Homo sapiens: one gene and its partner. The protein of the gene in region 1 purifies or fractionates together with the protein of each later gene. This does not show direct contact. Each region holds a gene or a part of one and is shown in the gene's direction. Other genes may lie near its edges. The genes, in order: ZNF354C and CBLIF.

Region 1 (3,827 bases):
GGCTCACTGCAGCTTCCCTGGGTTCAAACAATTCTCATGTCTCAGCCTCCTGAGTAGCTGGGACAACAGGTGCATGCAACCAAGCCTGGCTAATTTTTTGTATTTTTAGTAGAGATGGGGTTTCACCATGTTGCCCAGGCTGGTCTTGAACTGCTGAGCTCAGGCAGTCCACCCACCTTGGCCTACCAAAGTGCTAGGGTTACAGGTGTGAGCCACTGAACCCAGCCATCAGCTTGTGTAAGTTTTTGTTGTTGTTGTTTTGTTTGTTTTTTCAGAAAGAGTCTCGCTCTGTCTCCCAGGCTGGAGTGCAGTGGTGTGATCTTGGGTCACTGCAACCTCTACCTCCCGGTTCAAGTGATTCTCCTGCCTCAGCCTCCCGAGTAGCTGGGACTACAGGCACGTGCCACCATGCCCAGCTAATTTTTGTATTTTTAGTAGAGATGGGGTTTCACCATGTTGGCCAGGATGGTCTCCATCTCTTGACCTCGTGATCCGCCCGCGTCAGCCTCCCAAAGTGCTGAGATTACAGGTGTGAGCCACCGCGCCTGGCTAATTTTTGTACTTTTTTTTTTTTTTTTAGTAGAGACAGGGTTTCACTGTGTTGGCCAGGAAGTTCTCGCACTCCTGACCTCAGGTGATCCGCCCACCTCTGCCTCCCAAGGGGCTGGGATTACAGGCGTGAGCCACCACACCCGGCCTGGCTTGTGTATTTTTAAGATCTCAATGCCACTGGCTACTCCTGGTAAGCTTCCTTACTGATGGCTTGCAACTGGCCTAAATGATTTGACAGGACTTGCTTGATTACATAAAAAGGCCCCTGCTGAGAGTTCCTCCTTTGAGCTCTCCCACACCAAGATTCTTCACACAGACCCAGAGTCATGGCGTGGTCTGTGCAAATAAGGGAGACAGCACATGGAGTGTCTCTTGGCTTTCTAGTGCTTCCCTGAACTCTCTTTCTCTTGCTGTGCTGTACCCTTTGCCTTTCAATAAAAACCTTGACATGAATACGCTCAGTGAAGTTTGGTAAGTGCTGTCAACTCTCTGAACTGGGAAAATCTTTGTAAAACTATAGCATAAAGAAGGGTGGTGATGTCCTATATACTTGCAAGATTCTTGCATTCTATGTGAAACGATATATTAGCTCTAAATAGGTGATGAGTAACCAAAAATGTACATTATAATTATTCGAGTAACCACTAAAAATACAAAGAGGTCTAACTACAAAGTCAACATATAAGTTAAAATAGGCCAAGTGTAGTGGTTCACACCTGTAAGTCCAGCATTTTGGGAGGCTGAGGCAGGAGGTGGATCATGAGGTCAAGAGATCAGACCATCCTGGCCAACATGGTGAAACCCCGTCTCTACAAATATACAAAAAAATTAGCCGGGTGTGGTGGTGGGCGCCTGTAGTCCCAGCTACTCGGGAGGCTGAGGCAGGAGAATGGTGTGAACCCGGGAGGCAGAGCTTGCAGTGAGCTGAGATCGCGCCACTGCACTCTAGCCTGGGCGACAGAGTGAGACTCTGTCTCAGAAAAAGAAAAAAAAAAAATAAGCTGGTGGTATGTGCCTGTAGTCCCAGCTACTCAGGAGGCTGAGGCAGGAGAATTGCTTGAACCTGGGAGGCAGAGGTTGCAATGAGCTGAGATTGCACCACTGCACTCCAGCCTGGCAACAGAGCAAGACTCCATCTCAAAAAAAAAATTATAAATAAAATAAAATAAAATAAAATGGAATTTAAGAAAATTCAAAGCAAAGGAACACACATACATACACACAATCTCCCTAACTGTAAAAAACTGTAAGCCTAATGATAGGGCATAAAGTAATAAGTGAAAGATTGCTTTTCTGCCCCTCTCCACAAATATCAAAGAATAACGAGGGTGACAGCTTGTATCCTTCCAGATAGTTGTGCATGTGTCATATATATGTATATACAGATGTAGAGTTTTTCAACAAATATAGATTCTTTTGTGGCTGGCTTTTTCATATGAATCAATAATATATGAAGGTCAAATTCCAGTGTCATAGAGATCTACCTCATTCTATTTAGCGGCTGCATGACGTTTCATGGAATAAATGTACTGAAATTTGCTTATCCATTCCCTTATTGATAGATATGTAGGTTGTCTTCAATTGTTCACATTGTATTTCTTTCTTATTGCTGCTGTAACAAATTACTACAAATGCAGCATCTTGAAACAGCATAAATGTATTCTTTTACAGTTCTGGAAGTCAGAAGTCTGAATTCAGTTTTACTGGCTTGAGGTCAGGCTGTCGGCAGGGCTGGGTCCTTCTAGGGCTCTCAGGGGAAAATCTGTTTCCTTGCCCTTTTCACCGTCTAGTGGTTCCCTGCAGCCCTTGGCTTGTGGCCCTCTCATCCATCTTCCGAGCCTAGCACTCCAGTCTCTGCTTCTGTCATCACATCGCCTTCTCTTGAGAAAGATCCCAGGCTGGTATTTAAATTGCCTGTTGGCAGGAACTTTGCCTGTTTTCCCCTACTCCCACTGCACGTGGCATGTGTCATTGTTCTCAATGAGTACTCCATAAATACTTTTTTAATTAAATAGCTAATGGGTGGTTCCAAAAATTACGTAAACAGTTGACGTGAATTATTAGAATCCTGAGATTTTCTGTACATCCCACTGTCACTTTCTTCCTGCATTTTCCGTTGAAGAAGATGGTCCTGGGTGAGCAGGTATGGGTTTGCCATTACAGGAGCCTGTGACATTCAGGGATGTGGCCGTGTTCTTCAGCCAGGACGAGTGGTTGCACCTGGACTCTGCCCAGAGGGCCTTGTACCGGGAGGTGATGCTGGAGAACTACAGCAGCCTGGTCTCACTGGGTAAGAATTTTTGCCTATGACGAAGAATCTGTTATAGGAACGCCTCACAGGTCCATCTTTGGGGTTCCGAGCCTGTGGTCTTGTACCCTACTGAGCCCCTCAGAAAGGCTGAATTGCTGTAGAGTGGAAAGTGTACATCTTTGTTGTGATGCCCTTCTTGCTATCTGTTTCTCTACCCTCCACTCTCCCTCACATCCTACCGCCAATCAGTTCCCTCCTTGGAGTAGGCCAATGACTAGAGATCCCAGTTTAGATTCTGAAAAACACATAGGGACCCCCCATCTTAGAGGCCTTCATTGTCAGGGCCCTATAATGGTTCTGAACTGAGACCTTCCCCGGCCATTGACAGCTCCAGTGCCCCTGCGAAGTGCTTGTGCTGCCTTGTCTGCCTCTCAGGGCTTGCCTTCTTTGCTGTGTTGGTTCAGAGTGAGTAGTAGGTCAGTTCTAGGATTGGTCTTCATGCTATTTGTTCAAACTTCATTTGCTTCCTCATGAGCAGGGATTCCATTTTCAATGCCAAAGTTGATTCATCAGTTGCAGCAAGGAGAAGATCCCTGCATGGTGGAAAGAGAAGTCCCTTCAGATACCCGTCTAGGTAAGTGAGAGGCTGGGAAATGGGCACAAGGGGTTCTTTATAGACAAGTAGGTCACAAAGAGGCAGTTCTTGGGAAACTCTTGGAAATACTGAGTCCTCTTGAGATGCTCAGGCCAGTTGTATTTTGTTTGAGTTGTATAGGTTAAAGTACACACAATTACCTAATTGCAGTTATCTAATGTTAACCTATTTTCTATCATGGATTGATGAAAGGAAATCAGGTTTTAACAGAGAGTAGTTTAGAGTCACCTCGAACTAAATCTTTTCACCCAGAATCAAAGCTGAGCTTGGGGCTTGGGCATTTTTCAGGACTTTAAGACATACTGACTTCAAATCTCCTGCAGATTTTCATTATTCTCAAGAGATTCCTACAAAGAGAGTGCAGTCTTT
Region 2 (3,691 bases), on another chromosome or scaffold:
GTAAACTGTGTCATGGGGGTTTGTTGTACAGATTATTTCATCACCCAGGTATTAATTCTACTACCCATTAGTTATTTCTCCTGATCCTGTCCCTCCTCCCAACCTGTACCCTCTGATAGGCCCCTGTGTGTGTTGTTCCCCTCTGTGTATTCATGTGTTCTCATCATTTTGCTCCCACTTATAAGTAAGAACATGCAGTATTTGGTTTTCTGTTCCTGTGTTAGTTTGCTAAGGATAATGGCCTCCATCCATGTCCATTGCAGCACGATTCACAATAGCAAAGACATGGAATCAACCTAAATGCCCATCAATAGTAAACTGGTTAAAGCATTTTCTCATTTGATTTTATCTGATCATTTTATCAGATAAAATCATGCTCAAAAGAGAATATCATTTAAAATATCTGAAGCATTTATCTGAAGCATTTAAAGTGTCTCTATCCTGGCGGGTGGATGCTTGAGCCCAGGATTTTGAGGCTGCCATAAGCTAGGATCTCACCACTAGCCTGGGTAACAAAGTCACACCTTGTCTCTAAAAAATTAATTAACTAATTAATTAATTGACTGTCTCTATCCCTTCATCTTACCGCTTATTCCCTGACCTAAAGTGAGATGTTAATCATATATAAACTTTTTTTTAGATTTGAAACCACAATGACATCTTGGGGCCTTGTCGTCTCTTCTATCAACAATATCGCGGAAAATGTTAATCACAAGACATACTGGCAGTTTCTTAGTGGTGTAACACCTTTGAATGAAGGTGAGGGAAGAAAAGACATAGGCGTTATCTTCCATAGTCTGAAGGCTACATTCTTTAATTATTTTTTCATTTAATTTATTCATTCATTCACTTAATTAATAATTATGAGATCATGTGTATATACAATAATTCTATAAACAGTGATTGCTTATATATGTATACACACATATATTTTGTGTATATATATATATATATATAATCATTACATAGAGAAAGAGATTAATTCTGTAGGCAGCGATAATACTTTTCACAGAGAAGGAAAGTAAGTCTTAAGAGACATTAAAGGGTCTTGTACAAGGCATGCATCTAGAATGTAAAAGTGGATAATCAAACCCAGGTTTCCAAACTCTAGGACAAATGTGCTTTGTACAAAAGTTTCACTCAAAATTTATGCTTCACCTTCTCTCTTAAAAAAATCTCCAGAGAGAGGAATGCCTGCATATGGATGTTGGTGCATGTTTCCCCTGAAAAAATTAGGAGAAAGTGGGAAGAATAAAACTCAGACTTCAGCAAAACCTTAACATTTGTTAAAGCTTTTGCACACATATTAAAATATTCCCCAATTTAAAGAGCATTGCTGTATGGTTTTGGTCTAAGCATGACGTTACCTAGTTAACCTGATGTTAACTGTCACCATGCAGAGACATGTAAAGGCAAATAAAGTCACAGTACAGCCAAGGCTATAGGTTGGTAAAGATGCTTCATTATCCAATATTACAGTGGAGGAGATGTTTTTCTTAGAATCAATCATGTATTTAGCAAAATCTTGCCAGTCAGAATTTGTGGAGTTGTAGCAAAGCATATAATAAAGATCTTGGAATCACAGAGGACTTGGCTAGAAGCTCTTTCTCTTATTTAATAGCTGCATTATATTAGTAGTAAATCTGTGAGCCAGTTTCCACAGCTTTAAAATGGAAATTGCATTAATCATTTATTGGGTTATTGTAAGGATTGGAAATAATATACTTAGAATGATTAAGTACAATGTTTTTTGCATGGCATGTATTCAAAAATATTAATCATCATTATTATTATTAGTTTTCCCATCACCTTCATCCCAAGAAATGTCTCTATCAAAATATCCCATATACCCCATAAACATACACACCTACTATGTACCCACAAAAATTAAAAATTTTTTAAACACCCAGAATTTTTTTAAAAAGAAAGTAATTCACTTTGGGAGGCCAAGGCGGACGGATCAGGAGGTCAGGAGATCAAGACCATCCTGGCTAACATGGTGAAACCCCGTCTCTACTAAAAATACAAAAAAATTAGTCAGGCGTGGTGGCGGGTGCCTGTAGTCCCAGCTACTCGGGAGGCTGAGGCAGGTGAATGGCATGAACCCAGGAGGCGAAGCTTGCAGTGAGCTGAGATTGCACCACTGCACTCCAGCTTGGGTGACAGAGCGAGACTCCGTTTCAAAAAAAAAAAAAAAAAAAAAGAAAGTAATTGCCCCAGGAACTTAAATCAGGCATATTCTCATGTCTACAAATTACTTTTCTTCCCTGGGAGAAAGAATGGTAAAGGCCTCTGAGAAACAAAAATATTTGGGCCTGAAACTGTCATTCTTTCTGTTGCCAGCTACCTGAAAGGTAACAGATATTGCCATCATCTATCTTTCCTGTTCTGAAAGACAAAAATTCTCAACCCACTGCTCTTTCTTATGTCTTACAAAATCTTCAAAAATGAACAGGAAGTTCTCCCTTGAATGCCCTAATTTTGGCCTAAATAAGCCATTTTAACAATAACCACCACTTATTGCACAATTATTCTGTGTCAGGTACTGTATTAGGTACCCAGCGGTCATTATTCCTAATTTTGAAAATAACTCTTCAGAGTAAATATTATTAACAAAATCTTGTATGTGAGGAAAAAGAGACTCGCGCATCTTAAAGGGTATACCCAAAGACTTACTCCATGAAGTGGTGACCAGAGACTGGAAACAAGAACTCCCTAAATCTCAGTTTCATTTTCTCTTCATAATCAAACTGCTTATTTCTCTCTAGGATGATTTTACTCCTTTAAAAACATTTAATGGGTTCACTGCATCTAGCTCACTGCATCCCTTGGGGGATGGAGGTGGTTACATGCACCACAGTCACCTCATGTTATTCTCTGCTTATTTCCAGGGGTTGCTGACTACATACCCTTCAACCACGAGCACATCACAGCCAATTTCACACAGTACTAACGAAGAGGTGGGTTCAGCTTCTATCAAACATCTCCAAAGGATGGGTGAAATTTTTTCCACTTCATTTTAAATCTATGCAAAAAAGCGAATGCCTGTGATGCTACCATATTCCTGGTAAAAACATGGAGAACCACTATGTAGAATAAAAATGCAAAGTTCACTGGAGTCTCAACATCTATGACTCATGAAAATAAAATTTTCATCTTCTCAACACAATGACTGCCAATCATCATTTAAACCTAAGCTGAGGGGAAAAGGGAGAGTAGCTGATATTTTTGGATATCATTCTGATTTCTTGATTAATTAAATAGCACATTCCCTATTTCTACAAATGATATATTTTTTAAATTTCATATTTTCTTATCATACCAAGCACTCCTTTTCAAATTGCCTAACGTAAATATGCCCACGTATGTACATACATGTATACATGAAATGACCAAACATTTCAACATATAAAACTCCCAGATGGTTCAAAACTTGGTAATTGATGTTATGTCTTAACTCTCTCCTTCCATTTCCAATTTTTTTGTTAAATTCATATTTAAAATATATATTTAGATCATTTAATATGTACTTAGTAAACTAACTTATATTCAATATATTATACAGAATTTAATATATCATATATTTTACATGATTATATATAACTTAATATATGTTATATGATTATATATAATTTAACATATTATATATTTTATATGATAAATAGATATAGATCTTTGAAAAAAAATTAAG

Evidence for each region.
Region 2: the proteins of ZNF354C (region 1) and CBLIF purify together in Homo sapiens (affinity purification with mass spectrometry; one large-scale study listed by BioGRID and IntAct). This does not show direct contact.

Annotation. Positions count from the first base shown.
Region 1 is NC_000005.10:179,073,730-179,077,556, forward strand, and holds part of ZNF354C (zinc finger protein 354C), read left to right. Parts: intron 1-2,715; coding exon 2,716-2,842; intron 2,843-3,341; coding exon 3,342-3,437; intron 3,438-3,827. UniProt on the Homo sapiens protein: Transcriptional repressor that inhibits endothelial angiogenic sprouting. Suppresses osteogenic effects of RUNX2 and may be involved in osteoblastic differentiation.
Region 2 is NC_000011.10:59,828,746-59,832,436, reverse strand, and holds the end of CBLIF (cobalamin binding intrinsic factor precursor), read left to right. Parts: intron 1-640; coding exon 641-759; intron 760-2,891; coding exon 2,892-2,953; 3' UTR 2,954-3,164; downstream 3,165-3,691. UniProt on the Homo sapiens protein: Promotes absorption of the essential vitamin cobalamin (Cbl) in the ileum. After interaction with CUBN, the CBLIF-cobalamin complex is internalized via receptor-mediated endocytosis.